Regions from separate parts of the Homo sapiens genome. Here region 1 is linked to region 2. Evidence: fine-mapped expression QTL. A gene starts in region 2. The other region holds a variant in brackets. All regions are shown on one strand. Distances are between the middles of the regions.

Region 1 (4,392 bases), 39 kb before region 2:
CGCAAGCATTTTCTCCATAAGGCGCATCACAGCCTTCTTGTACTTAGGAGCACTAGAAAGCACTTAATTGCTATACTTGGAGGCCAATTTATAGAGAAAAATCATCAACAAAAAGCACAAAAATGTCAAAAACACAGCACTAAAAGGACCGAGGAAAGGACACTTGTGTACAGTATGAGAGCCAAAACAAGAAGGCAGGGTGGCTTCTTGTTGGACATCAGCTAGAAACGTATGTATCAGGTAGCTCATTTTTTCACCACTCTGTGCATGTCGATGGATGGCCCCAAGAACACTGCAAGTGTTGATTTTGGGGTTACAAATAAAGCTTAGTAAGTAGGCAAATTCACAAATACGGAAGCTGTGAATAATGAGGACTGACTGTATTTGCCAAGAGCCACATGGAGAGGCTTATTTGTTAGTGCGCTGAACCATGTGGCTCTGATGTAGATGGCAAAGGGAAGAAGCTAGGGAGTGTGTCACTGTGTGTGTGTGTGTTGGCGGGAGATGCTGCCCATCAGGAAGGCTTGAGGGGAAAGGCTTGAGGGGAAGGACACACTGTGCACACTCCGAAGCACAAGAGGAAGGGTGGCTGGTAAAGACAGAAGAGCAGAGATCTGAGGGGAGGGGTCAGTGCAGATATGAACTTGGGTAAGGAAGCCAGAGCCTTGGAAAGAGAGGCTTAGGGGAGCTAAAGGACCAGTCAGGAAAGGAACAGCATGGACAGCTGAGGGTGCCTTACGCCTCAGCCTACCCTTCAGACTTGGTTGAGAAGCTGCAAAGTAGCCATGGTAGGCTCTTGAGTTAGGGGGCTTAGGTTGTGTTTGAGAAATTGATGTCCTTACATTAATGGCAGCTCCATTTTTTGCCATTTTTTGAGCGCTAATGATGTATTAGGTGCCACACACACTGCTCTGTGCGGGGGCTGTCATTGTTTCCCTTTTGGCCTTATAGTACGAATGAGGAAACTAGTCTTGGAGCCCAAAGACTGGGCCTTTACATAAACCTTTCCGGTGTTGTGGCCTAATCTAAGAGAATGTGAAGGGAGACTGTAACAGACTTGGTTAATTATCTATCCAGAATGCAGGGAAAATGGGAGTCAGTGGTATGGCGGTGACAGTTTACTGGATGGAAGGGAGGAAGAAAGGAGGATGGAAGGGAGGAGGAAGAAGAGTAATTTCAACACTCTTTGTATACCAGGCACTTTCTAAGTGTTTTACATGCATGAGGGGGAGTTACGTAAACATGCGCGCGCACACACACACACACACACACACACACACACACACACACACTTACTTTTGCAGAAGAAGAAACTGGGGCTTAGAGTCTGTGTTCTCTTAAGGGGCTATCTGCAGCCCTGATTTGTTGAGGCTGTGCTAGGGGCCTGGGTTTGTGGTCATAGGTCTTTTATGTACATTATCTCATTTAATCCTTACAGCGAGTACTTTTTGCAAAGTGGTACTCTTTTCTTTTTCTTGTTTCTTTTCTTTTTTTTTTTTTTTTTTGAGATGGAGACTTGCTCTATCGCCCAGGCTGGAGTGCAGTGGCGTAATCTCGGCTCACTGCAACCTCTGCCTCCCAGGTTGAAGCGATTCTTCTGTCTCAGCCTCCCGAGTAGCTGAGACTACAGGTGCACACCACCACACCAGGCTAATTTTTGTATTTTTAGTAGAGACAGGATTTCGTCATGTTGGCCAGGCTGGTCTCTAACTCCTGACCTCAGATGATCCGCCTGCCTCGGCCTCCCAAAGTGCTGGGATTACAGGTGTGAGCCACTGCGTCCGGCCTGCAAGACGATATTATTTTCATCATACTGAGGGGGAATAATCACTGAGGCTTGGGGACTTTAACATCACAGACCTTGCGAGGACAGGAGTGAAGGTTTAAACCAAGTCTACCTGGTTCTGGCTGGTGCCTGGCACATAGGAGGCATTTATGACTATTTGCAAATCTGAAAGACACTCTGGCACATCTGAGGAGAATGGGCTTTTAGGACTAAAGGCAGTTTTTGAGCTCATTGGTGCAGTTATTTCCCTGCACACCCCTGCCTCTTCTTGGCTAGGGTAACTGAGAAGCTCTTGTTCCGAGAAGCTCTTGTTCCAAGAATCTGGAGTCCTTGGGAACTTTCCCCTCATGGTGCCCTGTTCCTGCTAGGACTTCAGTGTGGCTTTGTCATGCCTTCCTTCTTCCCC[G/A]TCACTTTATCTCTGCAGAGCCACTTGCCTGCCTGGGGGCAGTTCTTGCCACGGGACTTTGGGTGAGGAGGTCTGGCTCAGTGACGTTCTTCCCTGTGGCCCTGGTCACATTCCCCCTGGGTGGCCACAGGCCAGTTCCTGGGAACTGCGTCATTCCTGCTGCCCAAAGTAAGGGCACGTAGTGGAATGACAGGGCATCTGTCTCAAAGCAGAGTTCCTGGAGATTTATGGCAAGAACTGAGCATGGACTCTTAACTCTCCTTCGCCTGAAAGATCACATCCTGCCTGACAGTCTTGGCTGAAGATTCTGGGAAAGAAGCAGCTGCACTTTGGAAACTTGGAATCTTGAATTAGGATGGGGTCAGGAAGGAGATGTGTTGCAGCTTTTGACCCAGGTCAAAGGCTCCTGACACACACAAGTAGATTTTTGGGCTTCTGCCAGAAGGGTTGCACCTCCTGCTTGGCTGGCTCTGCCTCGGGCGTCTGGGGCTGGAGCAGGGAGAGTGTTGCTGATCTTGAGGTTTTCTTTTCTTTTTTCTTTTTAGATGGAATTTCGCTTTTGTTGCCCAGGCTGGGGTGCAATGGTGTGATCTCGGCTCACCACAACCTCCGCCTCCCGGATTCAAGCAATTCTCCTGCTTCAGCCTCCCGAGTAGCTGCGATTACAGGCATGCGCCACCACGCCCAGCTAATTTTGTATTTTTAGTAGAGATGGGGTTTCTCCATGTTGGTCAGGCTGGTCTCAAACTCTTGACCTCAGGTGATCCACCCACCTTGGCCTCCCAAAGTGCTGGGATTACAGGCATGAGCCACCGCGCCTGGCTTAGGTTTTCTTTTCTGGTGATGCCATGAACCATTTGCATTCAACCCCATTCTGTCTGGCAGGTGGCAGGAAGTCCGCGTGGGGGACTGGTTGCAGGCAGGTCTTAGCCAGGAAGCACTGGGCTGGAGGAGCTGCCCTCCATCACCTTGTTAGTTGGGAGGTTTGTCATGGGCAACTCCCTTTTTCTTATCTCCTTTGCTATTCACAGAGGCATGGCTGAGCCCCCCTTGGTGCTGCTGGGCAGGCAGTGTTCTCTGTGAAGCTAACAGGTGTGGTTTGTCACCACAGCATAGTGGTTAGAGGGGAAACAGGGTGTGGAGTTTGGTTCCCTGAAACCATGATGCTCTTCAGATGTTTCCTTCCTTCTTCTCAACTGTACTCTGCTTTCAGTAAAGTGATTGCATGGACATGGATAGCCCCTTCCCCTCTGTAAACCACAGGCATTCCCTGGCAAGAGTGGCAGAGTGATTAATTTTTCAGTGAAAGGAAATCAGAGCATAGGTTGTGTTTCTGCTACGAGTTTTGTCGACACAGGCTGGCCTTTTTATGTTGCCTGGTGACGAGGTTTGGGCCCCGGCTGTGCACTCTTGGTGCACCTTCTGTTCCTTTCCTGACTCAGAGGATGCCCCTGCTTTCCTTCCTTTCTTTTCTACTTCTTCCCCAGCCCTTCCAGTTGTGACTTCTATGAAAATCTACCCTGAAGAATCTGATGAAATTATTCATGCTGAGAAGTAAATGACTGATAAGACTTAGAGATTTATGGTCTCTGGGGCTTCAAGTGGTTCTGACTTACAAACATTCCCATAGCTTGGAATACCCTGCTTCCAACCTGGTGGGACTGCATATTCCCAACTCAGGGTTCATCATGCTGTGGGAACCTCTGCACATGTGAGAGACAGAACTACACCCTTTACACTAAGTGGGAAATGCTTAGAAGTGCAGGCTGTAGGTAGACTTTTCATTTCTACCCAGTGGGATGTCCTTGTGGAGTTTAAGCCAGAAGTAAGATTGGCGGATAGAACATGGGAATACAGAACACCCAGTTAAATTTCAGATTTTTTTTTTTAGGTATAAATTTGTTCTATGCCATATTTGGTACATAAGCTAAAAAAATTGTTTACCTGAAATTCAGATTTAACTGGAAGGCCTATATTTTTATTTGCTAAATCTGGCAGCCCTACCAAAAGGGAATTTGTAGTGTTGATCAGCCAGAGAGAGAAAGTAGTTTTGGGGTCAGCTGCCCTGTCTTGGGGTTCCTGAATCCACAGCATGTGGAGCTGTGGAGGAACCCTGGCTCCCACTTTGTCATTCCTTAGCCTGTAGCCTTGAGTGGGCACAAGTGAACACAGACAGGAGAGTTGAGTGATACTAAAAAGC
Region 2 (4,388 bases):
GAGCTCAAGTGACTTAGAATTGTCAATACTCACTTTTGATAATCTTTGTATTTCTATAGGAGACAGGGCAGAATTGTCAATACTCACTTTTGATAATCCTTGTATTTCTATAGGAGACAGGGCAGAAGGGGCAGAGAATAAAACAAGTGACAAAGCCAACAACAACCGGGGCCTCAGCAGTAGCAGTGGCAGTGGTGGCAGCAGTAAGAGCCAAAGCAGCACCTCCCCTGAGGGCCAGGCCTTGGAGAACCGGATGAAGCAGCTCTCCCTACAGTGCTCAAAGGGAAGAGATGGAATTATTGCTGACATAAAAATGGTGCAGATTGGCTGATTCATCCTGGGCCCTGGCCGATGTGCATATCAACATTTATACATGGAACTGGAGAACATTGTGCCAATAATCATTTAATATATGCCAAATCTTACACGTCTACTCTAAACTGCTCTAATGAAGTTTCAGTGACCTTGAGGGCTAAAGATTGTTCTTCTGGGTAAGAGCTCTTGGGCTGGTTTTTCAGAGCAGAGTTCTTGTTGTGGGTAGACTGTGACTAGGTTCACAGCCTTTGTGGAACATTCCGTATAACGGCATTGTGGAAGCAATAACTAGTTCCTATGAAAGAACCAGAGCTGGGAAGATGGCTGGGAAGCCAGGCCAAAGTGGGGGCAACAGCTTGCTTCTCTTTCTCTTCTCACCCTCAGTTTGTATGGGAAAATGGAGATGTCCTCTCCACTTTATCCCACGATATCTAAATGAAAAAGAAAGAAAACCCACACACAAAGCAAAAACTCAAGTATTAAGAGCACATATTTTTGACCCAGTGGAGGCTTAAAAAAAAAAAAATCCAAGAACACAATTCATTTTCACCACCTCTGGTGTTCAGAGGGGGCTTTTAAAAAAGCGTGTATGCTGGGATACCCATTAAAACCATTTTCTAGAAGGCTACCATGAGCTGCACTTTTTGGGGTGGGAAAGGTGAATGCCAGTGGGGATGCGGGGGGATGAGGGTAGGAGGGACTTATAGAAGGGGATTTGTGGCTGTGGGGGAGAAGGTTCTACAGCATAAGCCTTATCCTGCCAGCCAAGGGGATTTATTCTAAGAGAAGTGCATGTGAAGAATGGTTGCCACTGTTATTAGATTGACAAGATGTTAATTTCTCTGTAGGTTGTAACTTTAAAAATAAATGAAATTATTTAAGGGTTATGCTGCACTAGTATTCCTTAGAGGAAACAGTTCTTTAAAGTTAGGAAAGGGAGTAGGCAGGCATGTGTTGGCAAAGGCTGTTAATAGTAGTTAAGTGTTAAGACTGCTTTTCTTTAACGTTTTCATGGTAATGCATATTTAGAGCACTGTATTTTTGTCTTGTTAAGAAAATTTAGCATTTCTAAAAGAAAAAAGCAACCCTCTTTCAAACTGTTAATTCTGTCACAGCCTGTATATTTTAGTCATTTGTAAATCTCTTCATACAATAGTGACTTCTTTTTTGACTGATACAGTATCTTAATTACAAGGTTATTTTGTACTTGTCTTAATACACTAAGTGTAATAAAAACGGCTTGAGAAAAGTTTCTCCTTTCTGTGACTTCAAATAAGAACTCCCAGTATTGCCTAAATCTTCTAGGCAACCCTTTTTCCATAAGGAAGAGCATGGAGTGCTGTGGTCACCAGTAATCATTTTCAATTAATTAAGGTCATGAACAGTAATAATTTAAGCCTTGTTTACCAAGGTTTGAATTCTACTTTTGCTGTTGCTAAAGCTGTGGGCAATGAGGAGACACAGTGGCAGATAAAGACGAGGTGGTGACGCTGGAGGAGTGGGCCTCGGCTGCACACTGCAGTCTCGAAGCTTAAGTGTTGCTGTCAGTCAGTTCTCATCCCCAGAGAATTATTTAATTAATTAACTGGGGGGGGTACACTGGGGCATTAGACTTTTAAAAGCTCCCCGAGGGAATTCAAATGTGCATTCAGAGTTGAGAATCAGATGGATTCTTTCTTTTGTGGAAATGTTTTATAATATTGGACTCTTAATCCGCATTTCATTATTAAAGCATGCTGTGGAGAAAAAGTTCTTGGTTGGCCAATCATGAGGTTTAAGTTTCAGAAATAACCCTTTGCAGTATCAAACAAGTGTTTTACCTAGTAGTTAATAAATATTTCATCTAGGAAAGTTCATAGAAGTCCCTTGTGCTATTTAAGAACATTAAACAGCCGGCTGGGCCCAAGGGCTCATGCCTGTAATCCCAGCACTTTGGGAGGCCAAGGCTGGTGGATCACTTGAGCCCAGGAGTTCGAGACCAGCCTGGGCAACATAGTGAAACCCAGTCTTTACCAAAAATACAAAAATTGGCCAGTCTTGTAATTTGGGTCTCAAGCAAGAACACTTAACAGCATACCTGAATTTGACTAGTGACCTTCAGGGTTCATTCAGTTCTCATAAAATCTCCTTACACCCTTTTACCTGTAGTAAAGACACTGAGACTTGCTTGACTTACCATTAGCAAAAACTTCCCTGCAATTGAGGCAATTCTTTTTCCTCCTAGAAGAAACACCATCTGGAAAATAGCCCAAGCTAGGATAAAGTTTTTACAGCAGAGTCAAGTTATACAGTCTAATAACTAGAAATTTCTAGGTACTTCTCGCAGAGAATGAAAGTGGGAAGGAGTTTTCTAACACTGGGGCTTTCTTTCCCTTGTCTTTACAAAAGACAAAGCCTAGGCAGTCAGTCAGTAGCACTAGAGTATTCCTTATGGGCATTAAGAATTTCTCTTGTTTCCTGCCTCAATCCCCCTTTCCCATCAGCCTACCACTTGCTTGTCTCCTACACCAGAAAAGGATGCAGACCACCTTTTGACCAGGGCTCCCTTCTCACACTATCACCTAGTCAAATTTCTAGTTTTACGTAGTCTGCCCCTACTGCTGTCACTGTGGCCTCTTTATCTCCACCACATCTGACATTTAATTATACTCTTCTGGGAATTCTGTTCACTGGGCTTCTTAATCCTCCCCCAACCCTCGTTTTCTTGTATCTCCTGTTAGTCTATGTATTTTTTTCTAAATTAGAAATACTTTCTAAAAAACTTCCCCCAAATCAGTTCTTAACCATCTTTAGTTCACGTGACTCTTGACTTTTTGGGTGATCTCACTTACTATACCACGTTGATTCCAGATCTGGATTTTCTGGGCAATTTAATGTGTCAAAACTTACCTTTCACTGAAGCTATGAGCATCTGTCCATGTGCTGAATTAGAAACTTGAGTCATCCTCTCTAACAATTCAACTGGTCTGTCTGTTATTTAGAACCTCCAAAAGGCCTGGATTGTTTTTCCTCCCTCTACAATGGGTCTAGATCTTGTCCCTCCCTCGACTAGACGGCCGTGACTGTGGGTGCCATTAGACACACACAGCAGCTCAATCAGGGCTCAGGGAAGAAGGCTTGTGAACCCTGGGCAAAATCTTTTAATCTCTTAGGCTTATTTCCTCAATTGTAAGAAGTACAAATAATAGTATCTATACTTTATTCAGCTATTGGGAAGATTAAAAAGAAAAATATACACATTGGGTACATAGTAAACACTCAATGGTCAGTAACCTGTCTTTTGAAGCTTTACCTTCAAGGTCCAAGTTAAAGTATCAATTCTTCAAATACAATTTTTTATATTGGTCCAGCCAAAATTAATCTTTCCCTTATTCATACACTGGTGGCATGTTTTTAGAGCTCTATTATAGAAATCAGTGCCTTTAAGTTGTTCATATATAGGTCTCTTCTAATAAATTTGATGGCAGGGATTAGGTTTTTAGTTTGCATCCTGTACAAGATCTTTACCACAACAGGTTCAAATCATGTGTTCATAATATAGTTCTTATGTTCTGGATTTTTTCTTTTTAAAAAGTAACAGAAAACTTGTTAAATTTGTCCACCTAAAATTAATAGGCTAAAACTGAAAGCATGAAGTATTTACCAAAGTGAAATCTCATTAGTGTAATAATCTACCACTACTCTGTTAAAGAACAGATTTTTGTTGAAGTATATATTTTCATGCAAATAATCTGTTCTCATTTACATGAAACACGACAGATGAAATCTTTCAATAAATCTAACTTAAACTATGCAATATCCGTAAGTATAAACATTTTATTTCAATTTAAGGTAGTAGCAATACAAAATAAGTTTTGATAATTATAAAGTAGAGACAATGAAAAATCCCACCCTATTTTTAGAATTTTAAAATATTGAGCATCATTCTGTCCTGATGGGTTTTTATGTAAAGTGGGAATTTACATGACACCAGTATCTTGGCAATTCACTTTTTTTGAATGCTACATATCCCAATCACCATATATTAAATTCTCTATTTTCTTCAAAGTGCTATTGCCACAAGAGACTGAACG

The links.
Region 1: its variant is fine-mapped to the expression of SH3BP5-AS1 in tibial artery (GTEx, PIP above 0.99).

Annotation. Positions count from the first base shown.
Region 1 is chr3:15,291,191-15,295,582 of GRCh38, reverse strand. The region is part of intron 3 of SH3BP5 (SH3 domain binding protein 5); the gene reads left to right. Among named protein-coding and RNA genes, the nearest start is that of SH3BP5, 39 kb to the left of the region's middle. The variant G/A (reference allele first, on the strand shown) is at 2,193.
Region 2 is chr3:15,252,029-15,256,416 of GRCh38, reverse strand. SH3BP5-AS1 (SH3BP5 antisense RNA 1) reads right to left here and starts at 2,233. Exons shown (of 3, transcript NR_046084.1): 1 at 1-2,233. It overlaps CAPN7 (calpain 7), which reads right to left. Exons shown (of 21, transcript NM_014296.3): 21 at 3,501-4,388. It overlaps SH3BP5 (SH3 domain binding protein 5), which reads left to right. Exons shown (of 9, transcript NM_004844.5): 9 at 114-2,064. The coding sequence ends at 331.